4 linked regions of the Homo sapiens genome follow. The protein of the gene in region 4 purifies or fractionates together with the protein of the main gene of each other region. This does not show direct contact. Each region holds a gene or a part of one and is shown on either strand. Other genes may lie near its edges.

What was found.
Region 1: the proteins of TREML2 (region 4) and ACVR2A purify together in Homo sapiens (affinity purification with mass spectrometry; one large-scale study listed by BioGRID and IntAct). This does not show direct contact.
Region 2: the proteins of TREML2 (region 4) and RAB6A purify together in Homo sapiens (affinity purification with mass spectrometry, with the first as the bait; one large-scale study listed by BioGRID). This does not show direct contact.
Region 3: the proteins of TREML2 (region 4) and ESYT1 purify together in Homo sapiens (affinity purification with mass spectrometry; 2 studies listed by BioGRID and IntAct, with this or other methods). This does not show direct contact.

What each region holds. Positions count from the first base shown.
Region 1 is NC_000002.12:147,918,029-147,921,528, forward strand, and holds part of ACVR2A (activin receptor type-2A isoform 1 precursor), read left to right. Parts: intron 1-418; coding exon 419-564; intron 565-2,201; coding exon 2,202-2,316; intron 2,317-3,500. UniProt on the Homo sapiens protein: On ligand binding, forms a receptor complex consisting of two type II and two type I transmembrane serine/threonine kinases.
Region 2 is NC_000011.10:73,719,575-73,723,074, reverse strand, and holds part of RAB6A (ras-related protein Rab-6A), read left to right. Parts: intron 1-2,175; coding exon 2,176-2,229; intron 2,230-3,500. UniProt on the Homo sapiens protein: The small GTPases Rab are key regulators of intracellular membrane trafficking, from the formation of transport vesicles to their fusion with membranes.
Region 3 is NC_000012.12:56,131,267-56,134,766, forward strand, and holds part of ESYT1 (extended synaptotagmin-1), read left to right. Parts: coding exon 1-50; intron 51-210; coding exon 211-300; intron 301-482; coding exon 483-538; intron 539-942; coding exon 943-1,066; intron 1,067-1,154; coding exon 1,155-1,331; intron 1,332-1,452; coding exon 1,453-1,535; intron 1,536-2,150; coding exon 2,151-2,199; intron 2,200-2,321; coding exon 2,322-2,408; intron 2,409-2,514; coding exon 2,515-2,607; intron 2,608-2,813; coding exon of another isoform or gene 2,814-2,843; coding exon 2,844-2,915; intron 2,916-3,075; coding exon 3,076-3,162; intron 3,163-3,500. UniProt on the Homo sapiens protein: Binds calcium (via the C2 domains) and translocates to sites of contact between the endoplasmic reticulum and the cell membrane in response to increased cytosolic calcium levels.
Region 4 is NC_000006.12:41,197,274-41,203,308, reverse strand, and holds the start of TREML2 (trem-like transcript 2 protein precursor), read left to right. Parts: upstream 1-2,159; 5' UTR 2,160-2,300; coding exon 2,301-2,355; intron 2,356-4,879; coding exon 4,880-5,200; intron 5,201-6,035. UniProt on the Homo sapiens protein: Cell surface receptor that may play a role in the innate and adaptive immune response. Acts as a counter-receptor for CD276 and interaction with CD276 on T-cells enhances T-cell activation.

The DNA of each region.
Region 1 (3,500 bases), on a different chromosome or scaffold from region 4:
TAGAGGAATATTCTACATATTAGTTGTTATTTTATGTTGTTATTTTGTGTTCTGCTAGTCCCATGATATAACAACTCTATAGTCAGGATATTTTAACTTTTAAAATATTTTCTAGAACCTTAGATTTTCAACTAGTCTTTAAAAAAAAAAAAAAACAAACTTGTCTTATAGATTGGTGGAAGTTGACTATTCTTGTAACAAAAGTTTAAAGCTCTGGTATTTCCTTCTGGTCAAATGTTTATTAATGTGAAATGGAAGGAAATTTGAACCATTTGAACCATTCCAGAAAGATTGTTTCTTGGATATTATTTTTCCCTGAAAGGGAAACTCACAACCTCTTATAGGTAAAAAGAAAAGTCTCCTTATACATATGGCCTTTGTCAAGAACATAAGTTTCTTTTTTTCCCTCTTTTTTTAGGGTTCACTATCAGACTTTCTTAAGGCTAATGTGGTCTCTTGGAATGAACTGTGTCATATTGCAGAAACCATGGCTAGAGGATTGGCATATTTACATGAGGATATACCTGGCCTAAAAGATGGCCACAAACCTGCCATATCTCACAGGTAGACTAAATTTATATTGTTTTCCCAGATAATTGAGTATATATTTACTAAACTTTTAAGCCCCTGGGTAAATTTTAATTTTTCCTTTGTTATGCAATCATGCTTTACAAGACAGTCAGTTTTCATTTGTTTTTTAAAATTAGCTTTGAGATTGGCCAGGAAGTATTTTGGATAATGTATATGTTAACATTATTGGTAAAGTTTAATGATCTACTTCATCTCATTTCTGAAAGCATGATTGAAAATAAACTATATTTTCTCGATCTCAAAGGAAAAAGACATTTGTTTTACCTCAAAACATGATTTATCAATAGGGATTATTATCCAAGGGCATGTAATGAAGGAGAGACTTTGAATGTCTTCCTTGCTTGTTTTTTGAATGACCTTATCTGTACCCTGAGCCAAGTCTTAAAGGGAGGCATCACTTAAAACAGTTGTCCAGTGAAGAAATACTACTTAGACCCAACAGTTGTCATGCCCGCAAAAGGAAAAATGATTGTGTCTTAAACATGGAATTCAGTTTGCCATGTATTTAATTTTCTTGAACGTGGGATTCAATTTGTTGTCTTGTGTTCCATTTAAAGATGGTTGTTTGAAAAGTAGGCATTAACTGATTCACAGAACAGATACTTAGCTGAGTGCCACCAGGCGATGTTTTAGGTTGCTGGGAGGCATTATTGTAAGTCAGCCTCTAATTTAGGTTCTGATTTTGCAAACTTTAAATGACGTCTACCTCAGAAATAACTCTTCTCACTTTCTTACATGCAGTCTATTGGCCTCGTCTTCGATTTTCCCTTGCCCTACCTGGTCACATAGGGAATTAATCCTTAAGGACCCCCAAAGTTATTAAGGGCCTGAAAGTCTTTTGAAACTAAGATCGATTAGCTTTTATAGCATTTGGGAGTGTCTGCTTGTGCTTTCAGTATCCCATTATTGGTCTATATGTCTGCACATAAATTTAACCACTAGTCATTGGCATAGATGTATTTAACTAGGGTATAGTAATCTCTAGGATGAGCCAGTTGAGACAGGTGTGTAGAAGAGGATATCTTACTGCCTTAAAACTGTTACCCTTTTCAGAACACCAGGATCTAGCTAGAGCAGTGTATGTTTATGGTAAAAAGTTTCTGTTATTCATTCCATAAGATGCTTTTCTACAACCAGGTGGAAGAATATAAGAACCTCTATAATAAGGGATTATTCTAAAATGTAGGTCTCTACCAATAAGCAGAAGGCCCCAATTCAGCTATTTTTTAAAAGTTTCTTCATTTTGGTTTAAAATTTCTGTTTCTATGGGAGTTTGCAAATCAGAACTCTGAGATATTAACAGTAGTTTTATGATTGGTAGGTGGGTGACATAGATAACATATCTTTTTGGTATGGCAGATTTTTATATAACTGCTTTATAGGTAGGATTCCTTCTTATTGTCCATGTTATGAATAGGGGTTTGTCACCGTGCTCTTGTGTTTAAGGCTGCATGGGGCTCTGAGCTTTGTTTGTCTCACTTTCTCTGCATTTCATAATTTTAAGTAACTATTTTTTCATAGTGTACATATTCCCCCTTTTCTGCTTTCAATAAAAAATTTAAAAAGGTAACTAGTTTAAACTTAATTTGAATACTCTTTTTATTTGCAAGGGACATCAAAAGTAAAAATGTGCTGTTGAAAAACAACCTGACAGCTTGCATTGCTGACTTTGGGTTGGCCTTAAAATTTGAGGCTGGCAAGTCTGCAGGCGATACCCATGGACAGGTAAGGATGATGATTATAAAATGTAAGAAAAAATAAACTTGTTCCATATTTTCTTAGAATGGCATGTCAGGACTGAATTAGTCTAAAATTGTTGTGGTGTTTAAATCAGCATCTAATAGAGTTATCAAAGTTTCTGAGGAAGACATTTTCATATGATGGTAGAGGACTCAGGTGGTTTAGATCAAGCACTTCGTAAAGCAACCCTTAGACACACGTCATAGGATTCTTTTTGAAAAATTGATCAAAGAATAATCCACCACCTTTTAACAGACCTCATTCTTAGGGAATTCTTCGTATGAACTCCGTAGTTTTAGTCTGTTAGTTCTTTCACCATCTTAAGAAGAGTGGAAGAATAATTAGTCACTGTCCTTACTACAGTGTATTAAGATTTCCTGTCCATTTTCCCATGCAATAATAGTTTATTGCTTCTTGTTGTTTATTGCTTCATTAATTTCTTTAATCAACTTGATGGCTTTTCTCCAAATTCTCTCCAGAGTTCAGAGCACTTGTAAACCCCTGAATTAGGTAACTCTTCACACCTCTGTATATATCCATATGCACAGAAATCTTAGTAATGGGAACCTCTAGGAAGGCCAAAAGGGAAAAGAACATTATCCATACAGTTTATTCTCAGAAACTTTGAGGCTGGAAAAGATGTTTTCATTCCTGCAAGATCACCTTTTATTTTTATTTATTTATTTATTTTTGAGACAGAGTCTCGCTCTGTCACCCAGGCTGGAGTGCAGTGGCATGATCTTGGCTCACTGCAGCCTCTGCCTTCCAAGTTCAAGTGATTCTCCTGGCTCAGCTTCCTGAGTAGCTGGGATTACACACATGCACCACCATGCCCAGCCTAATGTTTGTATTTTTAATGGAGATGGGGTTTCACCAAGTTGGCCAGGCTTGTATCGAGCTCCTGACCTCAAGTGATCCTCCCACCTCGGCCTCCCAAAGTGCTGGGATTATAGGCGTGAGCCACCACGCCCAGCCAAGATCACCTTTTAATCAGGGAAACCAGTTCAACCTAAAAGGTGACATTTTCTACAAAGCTAAATGGTTCAGGCCTTCGACATTATCATTTCTTCATCTTTCATATCATGTAAATTATTTGGCCAACTAATTCTTAGGTTTCTTTTCCCCAGCATATCCTATTGGTTCCTGAGGACACGTTTTTAATGTCATGG
Region 2 (3,500 bases), on a different chromosome or scaffold from region 4:
CACTTTGGGAGGCCGAGGTCGGGGGGAATCACTTGAGGCCAGGAGTTCGAGACCAGCCTGTCCAACATGACAAAACCCCATCTCTACTAAAAATACAAAAAGTAGCTGGGCTTGGTGGTGAATGCCTGTAATCCCAGCTACTTGAGAGGCTGAGGCACTAAAATTGCTTGAACCCAGGAGGCAGAAATTGCGGTGAGCCGAGATCACGCCACTGCACTCCAGCCTGGGCGACTGAGCGAGACTCTGTCTCTAAATAAATAAATAAATAAATAATCGATGAACGAATAAATGAGAACTAAATGGGGCAATGTGTATAAATCGGCACTTAGTAGATAATCAATTTATGTAATTTACTGTAGCTTTCATTCTTGAATATATGTAAAAACATGTAAAGACTTATCAACATTGCATTGATTTTTCATATAAAGATATTATCTTTAGGCAGGGTGTAGTGGCTCATGCCTATAGTCCCAGCGTGTTGGAAGGCCAAGTGGGGAAGATCTCTTGAACCTAGGGGTTCCAGACTAGCCTGGACAACATGGCAAAACCCTGTCTCTATAAAAAAATACAGAAATTAGTGGGGCATGGTGGCATGCACCTGTAGTCCCAGCTACTCGAGAGGATTGCTTGAGCCAGGAGGTTGAGGCTGCACTGAGACAAAATCACACCCCTATATACCAGCTTGGGCAAGAGTGTGAGACTGTCTCAAAAAAAAAAAAAAAAAAAAAAAATATATATATATATATATATATATATATATATATATATACACACACACATATATATTTGAATTTTATTTACGGAAGCATCAGAAAAGAATAAAATACTTAGGAACAAATTTAACAAACAGCATAAGACTATACAAAACACTGCTGGGAGAAATTAAAGGAGACACATGTATTAGTTTGTTCTCATGCTGCTAATAAAGAGATAACCCAAGACTGGGTAATTTATAAAGGAAAGAGGTTTAATAGACTCAAGTTCCACATGGCTGGGGAGGCCTCAGGAAACTTACAATCATGGCAGAAGGGGAAGCAAACATGTCCTTCTTCACATGGCAGCAACAAGGAGAAGCACAGAGCAAAGAGAGGGGAAATCCTTTTATAAAACCATCAGATCTCGTGAGAACTCAACTATGACACACACAAAATTCTATTTTTCTGCTAACAGAAATAAAATCCCCAACTGATGGACCACTTTTCTGATCTAGTTTTTGATTGTTTTTTAGGAACTTAAAATTCTTAGTGACTCATATTTTAAAATGCACAGACTCAGTTTCTGTTTTAAGGAATATGGCACAAAGATATTTAGGGAAAAAGTATGTATGTACACGCACATATATACATAGTATATGTGCACACAAACATTAATGAGGTGGTAAAACTTCTAAAATAGAGTCCATATCAACATCCTCTTTCTGGAGTCTGTCTTTCTTCCATTCTTTTTATTTATCTCCCCTAATTAATACTGGACTGTTTTTTAACTTGTATACTTTTTTTCCTTTCTTTTTTGTAGTCTGCCTTCTTTCTATTCTCTTATTATTTCACCATTTTCTCTTGATAGGGAAAACAGCAGCCAGGCAATAGAACTTTACATTTGTTTTCACCACAGAAGGAAGCTATCATTGTGTGGTACAGAGGAAAACTTGTTTTCCTTACCTAATGACTTTTATTTTATATTGGAAAAATCATGTCTCTTATGGAAAGTTATGATGTTTGTGAGTCTCTGGCTGTCTATGGCATTAGGACAGTTGACAATATATCAACAGTATTTTATAAAACTGCTCTTGGGGCAGATACTTACCATTCTGAGTGGAGAACAATCAGATACTCAAACTAAAGTTCAAATACAAATATTTAAACCAAAGTTGCCATTGTCTTGTTATTTGTAAAATGAGAAAAGTAGGGATGAGAATAAGCTACCTGGCAGGAATGTATAAAGATTAGAGATGATCATGTAAAAGGCTTAAAACAATCTCTGATATGAAGCAAGTGCTGAATACATGAAAATCATTATCACTGGAAATTTTGTTTGTCCTTAATTGTCCTTAATTGACTATGTTGTATTGATTTGTTTATTCATTATTTCTTCCACAATCATGAATCCCATTTGAATCCTAAACTGCTGGCCACCATTAAACTTATTATTTGTTAACTTCTTTGTTTTGTTTTACAGGCAACAATTGGCATTGACTTTTTATCAAAAACTATGTACTTGGAGGATCGAACAGTGAGTAATATTTTCAGTGTGCAATTTTCTGCAACATTCCAGGTTAGAAAACTGCAATCAAAGTTATCAATGATTGTCACCATAAGAAGTACTTAGCAAAGTTACCAAAGATAGTTTACAGTTGTTGAGAAAAACTCTTATTACCGAGTGAGTAGTACTTGGCAGTCATCTTGATTTGGAAAAATGAAAACAAAGAGCTTTACAGAGAATTAAAGGAGAATTTTTATGAAGAAATTAAACCTGCTAAAGACCTTCTAAATGCCACCCTTGAGGCATTCAAAAAGATTTCAATTTGTGAACTTCAAGATTTTTTTTGTCAGGATAGGATGCGTATCAAAGTGACTGACAAAAAAGAAGTTATGTGGGCAGGGTGCGGTGGCTCACACCTGTAATCCCAGCACTTTGGGAGGCTGAGGCAGGTGGATCATCTGAGGTCAGGAGTTTGAGACCAGCTTGGCCAACATGATGAAACCCCATCTCTATTAAAAATACAAAAAATTAGCCAGGCGTGGTGGCGGGCGCCTATAATCCCAGCTACTTGGGAGGCTGAGGCAGGAGAATCGCTTGAATCCAGGATGCAGAGGTTGCAGTGAGCTGAGATTGCGCCATTGCACTCTAGCCTGGGCAACAAGAGCGAAACTCCGTTGCAAAAAAAAAAAAAAAAAGTAATGTGTATTTATTTGTTGGATTTTTGTCTTTCATCCTTTGGAATGTTTTCTTTAAATACAGTGTAAAATCTGTATTCTAGCCCACTACCCCTTGAAGAGATACTTGTCACCTAAACAGTGAATATCTTAAATGCAGTACTTTGAGACCTGCACCCAAAAACATTATTTAATTTCCAGTGTTATTTCTTAGGTGTTTTTTTTTTCCTGAATATTCTCTTTTATGTTTTGATATATAGCATGTCATTTCTTAAAATTTGAAAGCGGCCAGGTGTGGTGGCTCACGCCTGTAATCCCAGCACTTTGGGAGGCCAGGATGGACAGATCACCTGAGGTCAGGAGTTGAAGACCAGCCTGGCCAACATGGCGAAACCCCATCTTTTCTAAAAATACAAAAATTAGCTGGGCGTGGTGGCGGGCGCCTGTAATCCCAGCTACTCGGGAGGCTGAGGCAGGAGAATCGTTTGAACCCGGGAGGCAGAGGTTGCAGTGAGCCGAGATCACACCACTGCACTTCAGCCTGAGCGACAAGAATGAGAGTCTGTCTAAAAAAAAAAAAAAAAATTTGAAAGCTTGGAAACGACTTTATCATGATGCAAGAACTTG
Region 3 (3,500 bases), on a different chromosome or scaffold from region 4:
ATGTGGAAGTGAAGAAATATTTTTGCAAAGCAGGAGTCAAGGGCATGCAGGTAGGCCAGATGTCAGGGGCCACATAATAGGGAATGTTTGTCCTGCGTTTCATGGGATATGGGGAAGTGTGAGGTTGGAAAGACCAAGGCTGAGAAAGTCTGGGAGGACAGAAGAGGGACTTTTCTGGGGAAAGGCTTTGATTTTCTCTTCTTGCCTCAGCTACATGGCGTTTTGCGGGTGATACTGGAGCCACTCATTGGGGACCTTCCCTTCGTGGGGGCTGTGTCAATGTTCTTCATCCGACGCCCGGTAAGGGAAAACAATGAAGGGGTATGGGGAAGCAGGAGAAACAGAGGACTGGGAGGATGAGGGCAGCCAGTGAAGGGGAATGAGAAGGGAACTGACAAGAAGGCCGAGGGGTTCTGGCAACTGTTTGATGGGTATGACCACACCCCATAGGATCTGTCCTGACCCCTGCTCTTTCCCTCCAGACCCTAGACATCAACTGGACAGGGATGACCAACCTGCTGGATATCCCAGGACTTAGGTATCAAGGACTTACTGAGCACCTGCTGAGTGTTCCAGCGCTGGGTTGGGGGTTTAAGGGACACAGAGCAGTCAAAGATGCTGCTTGTGTCCTCTAGGAGCCTCAACTTCATTTGGGGAGCAAAGACAAATACCCCTGCAAAGTTTGATACTGTGATTTTTCTTTGGGTTGGGGGAGCAGGAAGGGAATGCAGAGGGCTGAAGACTGCAAAAGGCAATGGGGATGGCAGTGAAGAAGGGAGAGAGCAGTAGGTGGGGAATTAGGGTAGAAGAGTAGCACAAAGGATTTTCACAAAAGGACTTTCTTACAGCTTTAGGTCTCTCTTGGGTGTGGGAAACATAGTTGGGGTTAGGAGAAAATTGGAAGTTGAGGCCATACCCACTCCTTTCTACTCCCCCATTCAGCTCACTCTCTGACACCATGATCATGGACTCCATTGCTGCCTTCCTCGTGTTGCCCAACCGATTACTGGTGCCCCTTGTGCCTGACCTTCAAGATGTGGCTCAGTTGCGTTCCCCTCTGCCCAGGGTATGGCCTTTCCCCCACTAGATAGATCCTTCTCTCAGGAACCCCTTGCTGGGTCCTTAGTTTCTCACCATCTGATTCCTTCCTCCAGGGCATTATTCGAATTCACCTGCTGGCTGCTCGAGGGCTGAGTTCCAAGGACAAATATGTGAAGGGCCTGATTGAGGGCAAGTCAGACCCATATGCACTTGTGCGTTTGGGTACCCAGACATTCTGCAGTCGTGTCATTGATGAAGAACTCAACCCACAGTGGGGAGAGACTTATGAGGTGGGAGAGTTGAGCAGCTCTGTGAAATGGGGAAGCCCCAGGAGGTTGTGAGAGAAGATGCTGATTGGATGATCCTCACAGCTGCAGCCCCATGAGACACTCAGCCTTCTGTGTTCCCCAGGTGATGGTACACGAGGTCCCAGGGCAGGAGATTGAAGTGGAGGTGTTCGACAAGGATCCAGATAAAGATGACTTTCTGGGCAGGTGAGACTCTGCCTGTTAGGATTCTAAAGCCCATGCTGGCCAGGCACGGTGGCTCATGCCTGTAATCCCAGCACTTTGGGAGGCTGAGGCGGGCGGATCACGAGGTCAGGAGATTGAGACCATCCTGGCTAACACGGTGAAACCCCATCTCTACTAAAAATACAAAAATTAGCCGGGTGTGGTGGCGGGCGCCTGTACTCCCAGCTACTCGGGAGGCTGAGGCAGGAGAATGGTGGGTGAACCCGGGAGGAGGAGTTTGCAGTGAGCCGAGATCGCGCCACTGCACTCCAGCCTGGGCGACAGAGCGAGACTCTGTCTCTAAAGAAAAAAAATAAAAATAAAAAAAATAAAGCCCATGCTACCGAGGTTCTGGAGGTAATTATACTCACTTTCTGGGCCTGGGAATCATGTATCATTTTCCTTCCTAACCTCCCCACCCCCAGCCCCTACCATGCACATACTCACGCATGCAGGTGAATATCTTCTGAGAGGAATAAGGGAGTCTGAGATCTGCCAGTCATTTCTGGGTGGGTGAGTGGAGGGCCACTGACATGCTGCTAATTACAACACTACCCTTTTCTTCCTTTCACTACCCTCTCCCCCGCCAACCCTCAGAATGAAGCTGGATGTAGGGAAGGTGTTACAGGCTAGCGTTCTGGATGATGTAAGTTGGGAGAAGAGGAAGGTGGGGGCTGATCTCACCCTTTGGGTAGATAGTAGTTGCTACATTGGTAGGGAAGTAGTTGAGCAGGTATCTGATCTCTACTACATCTCAATTTCTTCTAGTGGTTCCCTCTACAAGGTGGGCAAGGCCAAGTTCACTTGAGGCTAGAATGGCTGTCACTTTTGTCAGATGCAGAGAAACTGGAGCAGGTAAGCCACATGGGAAATAGGAAGCTGGCAGGGGAGAAATAGGTAGCTGGAAGTGTAGGGGACTTGGAACGGGGACCAAGATCTGACTACTACCACCCCTCCCCAGGTTCTACAGTGGAATTGGGGAGTCTCCTCTCGACCAGATCCCCCGTCAGCTGCCATCTTAGTTGTCTACCTGGATCGGGCCCAGGATCTTCCTGTGAGTTTGGCTGGGTGAACAGGAGCCCTGGATGTAACATTCCCCAACCCTGCCTTGCTGAGGATGCAAATGTCCCTGCCTGCTTTGCTCCAGAAGTATCAGCATGTAACATAAGGGTCCCAGGGAGGGGATCAGATCCATCTCAGGGAAAGGATTCTGATGCGATCCCACCTTCCTTCACCAAAACCAAAACCGAATCCCCCAAGATGGTGACCTCTGAATTGTACCCACCACAGCTGAAGAAGGGGAACAAGGAACCCAACCCTATGGTACAACTGTCAATTCAGGATGTGACTCAGGAGAGCAAGGTGAGGGCCAGGACATCATTGTGGGTGGCCAGGTAGGACAGGGAGAGGCCTATTCTTGGGATGGTTTCCCCTTTAGAATGCCTGTTACATGCAGGGGTTTTCTGCAGAAACAGGAATGGTGCTGTGGTATACACCCTTAATCCCTCCTCTACATCTCCAGGCTGTCTACAGTACCAACTGCCCAGTGTGGGAGGAAGCGTTCCGGTTCTTCCTACAAGACCCTCAAAGCCAGGAGCTCGATGTGCAAGTGAGATAATCACCTCTTCATCCCCTCCCGAATACCCTATTCTGACTTCCCAGATCTGTACCATTTCTCCTCTCCTTCTTTTCCCTTGATTCCTATTTTTAATCCATCTACCTAGACTCCCCACCTCCCTGAATATCTCTCCATTGTTCCCCAACTGTCGCTCCAGAATAATATTTTTTTTTTTTTTTGAGATGGAGTCTCGCTCTGTTGCCCAGGCTGGGGTGCAGTGGTGCGATCTCGGCTTACCGAAACCTCCACCACCTGGGTTCAAGCAATTCTCCTGCCTCAGCCTCCCGAGTAGCTGGGATTACAGGCAGGCACCACCATGCCCGGCTAAT
Region 4 (6,035 bases):
TTGAATCCAGTGCATACTTCCTCGATCAGCGAATGAATGTTTGATTCTTTCTACCCTCATCAGCACAGTGATCCCAAGGGTCACACTTTAGACGATGATTGGCTCAGTGCTGGGCGCACTGTATCAGTTTCATAGAATCATGGATTCCAAGCGCATAAAGTCCCCACAAGAGATAAATCCCCCACTCCTGAAGCAACTTACTGTTCTGATGGGGGAAGGGATGGAGGAACTTACTGTGTGTGCTGGGGAGGGGAGATGGCCCCTGAACTCAGGGAGCTCAGGAAGTTCTGAGGACTGGGTGAGAAACATTGAAAAAGGAAGGGTGAATAAGGAAAACAAAACACGTCTGTGAGCTGAGAGGTCTCAAGTGACAATCGTGTCTCATTCCTACGCCCCCAGTGCCTACCTAGCCCCATGCATAGCAATGAGGTTGTGGGAATGAACAAATGAATGAATGAATTAATGAGTGAGTGAATGAGTTGAGAGACTACAAAAGCTTAGGGTCAGCCGAGATAGACTTCTTTGCTTGGAGCTTGGGGCTTCAAGGTCAATTTAAGATTGTGGCCATGCAAGCTTGAGGACTTTTTGCTCTGAGTCCTGTTAAAATTAATGAAAATGGAGACCAGGCCTGAAGAGTCCCTGAGCAAAAATTAAAAAAACAGTTAGGCCTCATAAGTGACCTCAACTTTGCTTGATTTGCAAATATCAGTGAAACTTAACACGAGCTATTTCTTGTAAATGTGTATATTAAGGAAAAATAGAACTTAAGCTCAACCAATCAAAAGAAACTTATATAATTAACTAGGGTCTTTCCAACAGGATAGGCCAAATAAGGGAACTATATAACTATAACTAATTAAATATTTTCTTCAGTTTACTTGTCCTGTAGGAGTCTTCCCCTTGCATTCCCCCAGTGGAGCTCCTCAACCTCTTCTGTTTGGAGCTGCCTGATTCATGAATTGTTGTTTGCTGAAATAATCTGTTTAAAATTTTATTGTGCCTCAGTTTACCTTTTGACAGTCCCATCTAAGGAGTAGAAACATGGCACTAGTGAGTAGGGGGAGCATACATAATCACGGGAGTCCAGCTGGGTCCCCACACACTGAAGGAGCAGATGACACAGGTACCGGACATCAAAAATTGATGCTTCTGATTCTAGGCCTTGGGGTAAGTGAAGGGTGTGGTCTTGGGCCTAGTGCTGGGTCATTTCCACTGGAGCTGGTGGCTGTACAGGCGAGATAGCATTGAGCAGGAGGAAGTGGAGGGCACTTGCCTGCGTGCTGACGTAGGCTGGAGGCAGGGGAGGAAGGGGGTCTTGAGATGAGGTGGGTGAGGGGAAGTACTGCGGAGGCTGTAGGAAGCCTGCACGAGGGACTAGGAGTCTAGAGGGAGCTGATGGTGAGTAGAGTCGACAGGAGGAGAGGCAGGGAGAGGGACAGAGAGAGGAGACGTATGGATAGGGAAAAGGAGAGGCTGCTGGGGTGTGTGTGAGACTGTGTGCATGGGCGTGTGTGTGTGTGTGTGAAAGTGAATAAAAGACAAAGTGAGACTGTGAGTGTGAGTGCATGTGCATGCACACCTGTGTGTGAGAGTACAGGAACCCCTCCCTCAACCCAAAATTTATGCCCTGAGTCTTAACAATTTGCATTTTTCCCGCTTGACAAAAGTAAGATTTCAAGTGAGCCTGTAAGAGGTTATTTGCAACAGTGAACACAAGTGACTGTTCTGAGCAGCCAGGAGCCTGGGAGAGAGAGAGAGGAAGGAACAGAAAGAATCTGCAATGAATGAATGAATGAGAGTTTATAAGAACTTCCCTGTGAATGTATATATGTAAGAAACTAGGGTCTGAGATGCTCCATCTCAGCCTAAGAGCCCGCACCCCTGGGTCTCTGAGCCCAGAAGATTCCAGGAAGGTCTATACCTGACGTTCCAGAAGCCTCACCCCAGCCCCCTTGCTGGATCCTAGGGACCAGTTTCTGGGGGAGGTTGGGGAGGGCGGGGAGCCCTCTGACTGTGAGTCCTCCCGGCTTGGGGCCCCAGACTGGGTGGAGCAGCCACACCTGCCTGAAGTTCCGAGGAAAAGGGCGGAAACAGCTGCCAGCACCGCCCTCATAATAGGCTCAATGAATCCCTGCGGTTGGCTGGGGGCAGTGGGTCCCACACTGCCTCACTTCCCTAAATGGGCAGCTTCACTTTTAGAACCCCGGGTCCTTCCCTGGCAGGCCCAGGTGGCACATCCTGTGTCGGGTGGGCCCTCACCTTGGATCTCCAGGCCTGACACTGCCCAGCTGGATGGAACCATGGCCCCAGCCTTCCTGCTGCTGCTGCTGCTGTGGCCACAGGGTTGCGTCTCAGGTGAGGGGAGAAGGGGCTGACTTGTGGAGGAGGGAGTGGGTACAGAGGCAGGAGCTCAGGGCCTTTTTCTTACCCTCCTTACCAGCAGTTTTCTTGTTTAGTGTTTTGTGGGTTGGGGAAGGAGGAGATTAGGGCTGACTTAGCTCTTTACCCTAATATCAGGCCCCAGGCGAAGCTAACCCAGGCCTCCCAAGCCAAGATAAAGCTCTGGACCCTCTCTGCATTGGCTCCTTTATCTGCTAGGCTTCCTCAGGCTTTAAAGCAGAGCCCTCAATTTCCTCACACAAATAGCTTTCTCTGCTTGGCCTCTGTCAGGAAGCCCTGCTTAGTTATGACAGCAATCATTGCATCATGTGTGTTTTGAACTGAATTTGAACATTTTTCTTGAAATGCTGATGCCACATCCTGTCCCTGCCTCTGTCCTGAAGGGACCAGTGTGTGAATGCCTTTCCCACCTCACAGATACCAATGCTCCTTGAGGAACCTCACCCATTCCTGCCCCTCTCGCTGCCATGGCAACCAAGTTACCACTTCCTGTTCAGTTCTGGGCATGGTGGGGGTTGGCAAAACTCACCACTGCCTGTGAGAGGGGTGGGAGGTGTAGGCACACATGAAGACATTGCCCTGGAGACCCATCCCAAGGTCACCCAACTCTGCACCTCCCAGAGGGTAGAGAAACAGCTTCCCACTGCCAGGGCAGAAAGGGGTCTCTCTTGTGCTAAGAAATCCTGGGCTCATCCACCAAATAATGAAGTTGGATCATTCTGTTTAGTTTGCAAGGGACAGAGGGATGCTTAGAGAGGGTGCTGCTTCACACAGAGCCTCAGCTCTAGTGGCTGCTGGCTGGGACTTGGGACGGATATCCTGGATTCTGGTGGGACAGATGTCCTGGATTCTGGGCCCTTGACTGTCACAGCTCTGGGTTCCATTGGGGGAACTGGGAGGCCCCAGCATGTGGGAAAAGGAAGCATGAGTTGAGCATGCACTGTGTGCAAAGCACTGACCTGGGGCAGAATTCTCACAGCAACCTGTGAGGGGTGTGGTGCTATTCTCACTTGACTGATAAAGAAACAGAGATATTTCTGTATCAGTCAAGTGTCTGTTTTGATATTTCTGTATCAAACAGGTGACCTAATCACACCACTAAGTGGTAGAAACAGGGTTTCAACCCTTGTTTATTTTGACTCCAAAATGTGTGCTCTCTGTTCTCTACTATGGGGGAGAGTCTTTTTATATGTGGTTTTTTTGGAAGACTCTGGGGTGAAATTATCAGAAGAGTCAGCTGAGCTTAAGGCAGGCAGAGGGGTGGAGGGAGCCCAAGGCAGCTTTCTCCCTCTCTCTGTCCCCTGAGTCACCCTGCACACCCCAGTTCTGCTCTGTCTCTACCAGACTGTGGATTATGAAGGCTTGGACCACATCTTACTCCTCAGCATAGAGAGAAAGATATTGCAGGTGGAAAGTGAATAATTGTAGAATCCTGTGGTTCACACTCCATTGGGAGTTTGTTTACATGTATATTTAGACAGGCTTGATCTATGGGTTTTATGTAACTAGAATATTTTAAAACTAAACACCAGATGGAATGAACTAAGGAGAGTTATTATTTAAAGAGGACTAAGTGAACCTATTTGTGAAATAAATAACTGTTAATCATATTTTCAAATACTAGATTTTCTTATCTACCTAGTTAGTTGGGCACTGAAATTTCACAACTTAATGACCTGTGTTTGTGTCTCTGCATCTGTCTCACTGAGGGCATGACCTGGGTTTTTCCCACAAGAATTCCCTGGGATGCCGGGCACAGTGGCTCACGCCTGCAATCCCAGCACTTTGGGAGGCCGAGGCAGGTGGATCACGAAGTCAAGAGATTGAGACCATCCTGGCTAACATGGTGAAATCCCGTCTCTACTAAAAATACAAAAAATTAGCCGGACGTGGTGGCAGGCACCTGTAGTCCCAGCTACTCAGGAGGCTGAGGCAGGAGAATAGTTTGAACCCAGGAGGCGGAGGTTACAGTGAGCTGAGATCGTGCCACTGCACTCCAGCCTGGGCAACAGAGCGAGACTCCGTCTCAAAAACAAAACAAAACAAAACAAAACAAAACAAAAATGAATTCCCTGGGAATCCCTGAAGACAGAGCTTGTCACTTTCCCATCAGACTAGAAAATACCATGAGGAAAGGGGCTGTGTCTGATGGAGCTCCGAGTGTAAATGCTGCGTTTCCTCCATTAGACTGGGGACTCACTGAGGGATATACCTGCCTCCTCCATCAGACTGAAAGCTCCCTGAGAGCGGGGGTTGTGTCTCCACTGTAATACTGGAAGCTAGCTGTTTTCAGGGCCCATTCACCTCCCTTCAGATTGGGGCAAGCTCCCTGAAGGCGGGGCTGTATTTCCCCCTCAATCTGTGGGTTCTGTGACAGCAGGACAATATCCACTCTACCCTTCACCATGATCTTCAACTTTCATGATGTCTTCTTCCTCTCCTCTTGCCAGACCTTATTCAATAAGTATTGTCTCCACAGGCCCCTCTGCTGACAGTGTATACACAAAAGTGAGGCTCCTTGAAGGGGAGACTCTGTCTGTGCAGTGCTCCTATAAGGGCTACAAAAACCGCGTGGAGGGCAAGGTTTGGTGCAAAATCAGGAAGAAGAAGTGTGAGCCTGGCTTTGCCCGAGTCTGGGTGAAAGGGCCCCGCTACTTGCTGCAGGACGATGCCCAGGCCAAGGTGGTCAACATCACCATGGTGGCCCTCAAGCTCCAGGACTCAGGCCGATACTGGTGCATGCGCAACACCTCTGGGATCCTGTACCCCTTGATGGGCTTCCAGCTGGATGTGTCTCCAGGTGAGCAGGCTGCAGTGGCTCTGGGACGGGTGGAGGGAGTCCCTCCTGCCCCACACTCCACTAACATCAGAGATAATAAGGATAATAATCCATCAGTGGTCATGTTGCACTGTAGTGTTTTCAGAGTGCCTTTATGGCACTATTCGTGGCACTATTGTCACCATTTTACAGATGAAGATAATGAGACCTGAAAACCCAGTGTGACTCTGAGCTTGTCCGGGGTCCCAGAGCTAGCAGGTGGCTGAGATAAGGTTCAAACTTGGCACTGTCTGTGCTGTGTTTTATTCACTCATTGCTTCAACATAATTCATTGAGCCCCTATTATGGGGCAGGCACTATTCTAGGCTCTAAGGAGACAGTGAGCAAAAACACTCACAATCCTGCACTATGGGAGATGACAGGCACACTTATTATCCAGACAAATAATTGCAGAAAACAAGAGGTGTTCATAAGAAACTAGGAACTGTTTCAAATAATTGCAAATAACTAGAGGTGTTCATGAACTAGTAAGCGACTCGGTGGTGGGGGAGCTACTGAAGTACTGGGGGTCAGAGAACACCTCCCTTAGCAGACAACACCAAGCAGAGCCCTGAATGGTGAGCATTTTCCAGCCCTGTTGAAATCTGGGTGCTTTGAAGAGCACTTTGTCGCAAGAGCTGAATATGCAAAGGTCCTGAGGTCAGAAGGAGCTTGGCTTGTATAAGGCTTATTTAGTCACTCTATATGGAGTGTGAGGCAATGAATGAGGAGGTTGGAGAGTCAAGCAGCCCTGAAGACCATAAGTTGGAATTTAGGTATAAGAGGAAGCTACTAGAGAGCTCAGAGAGCTGTCATG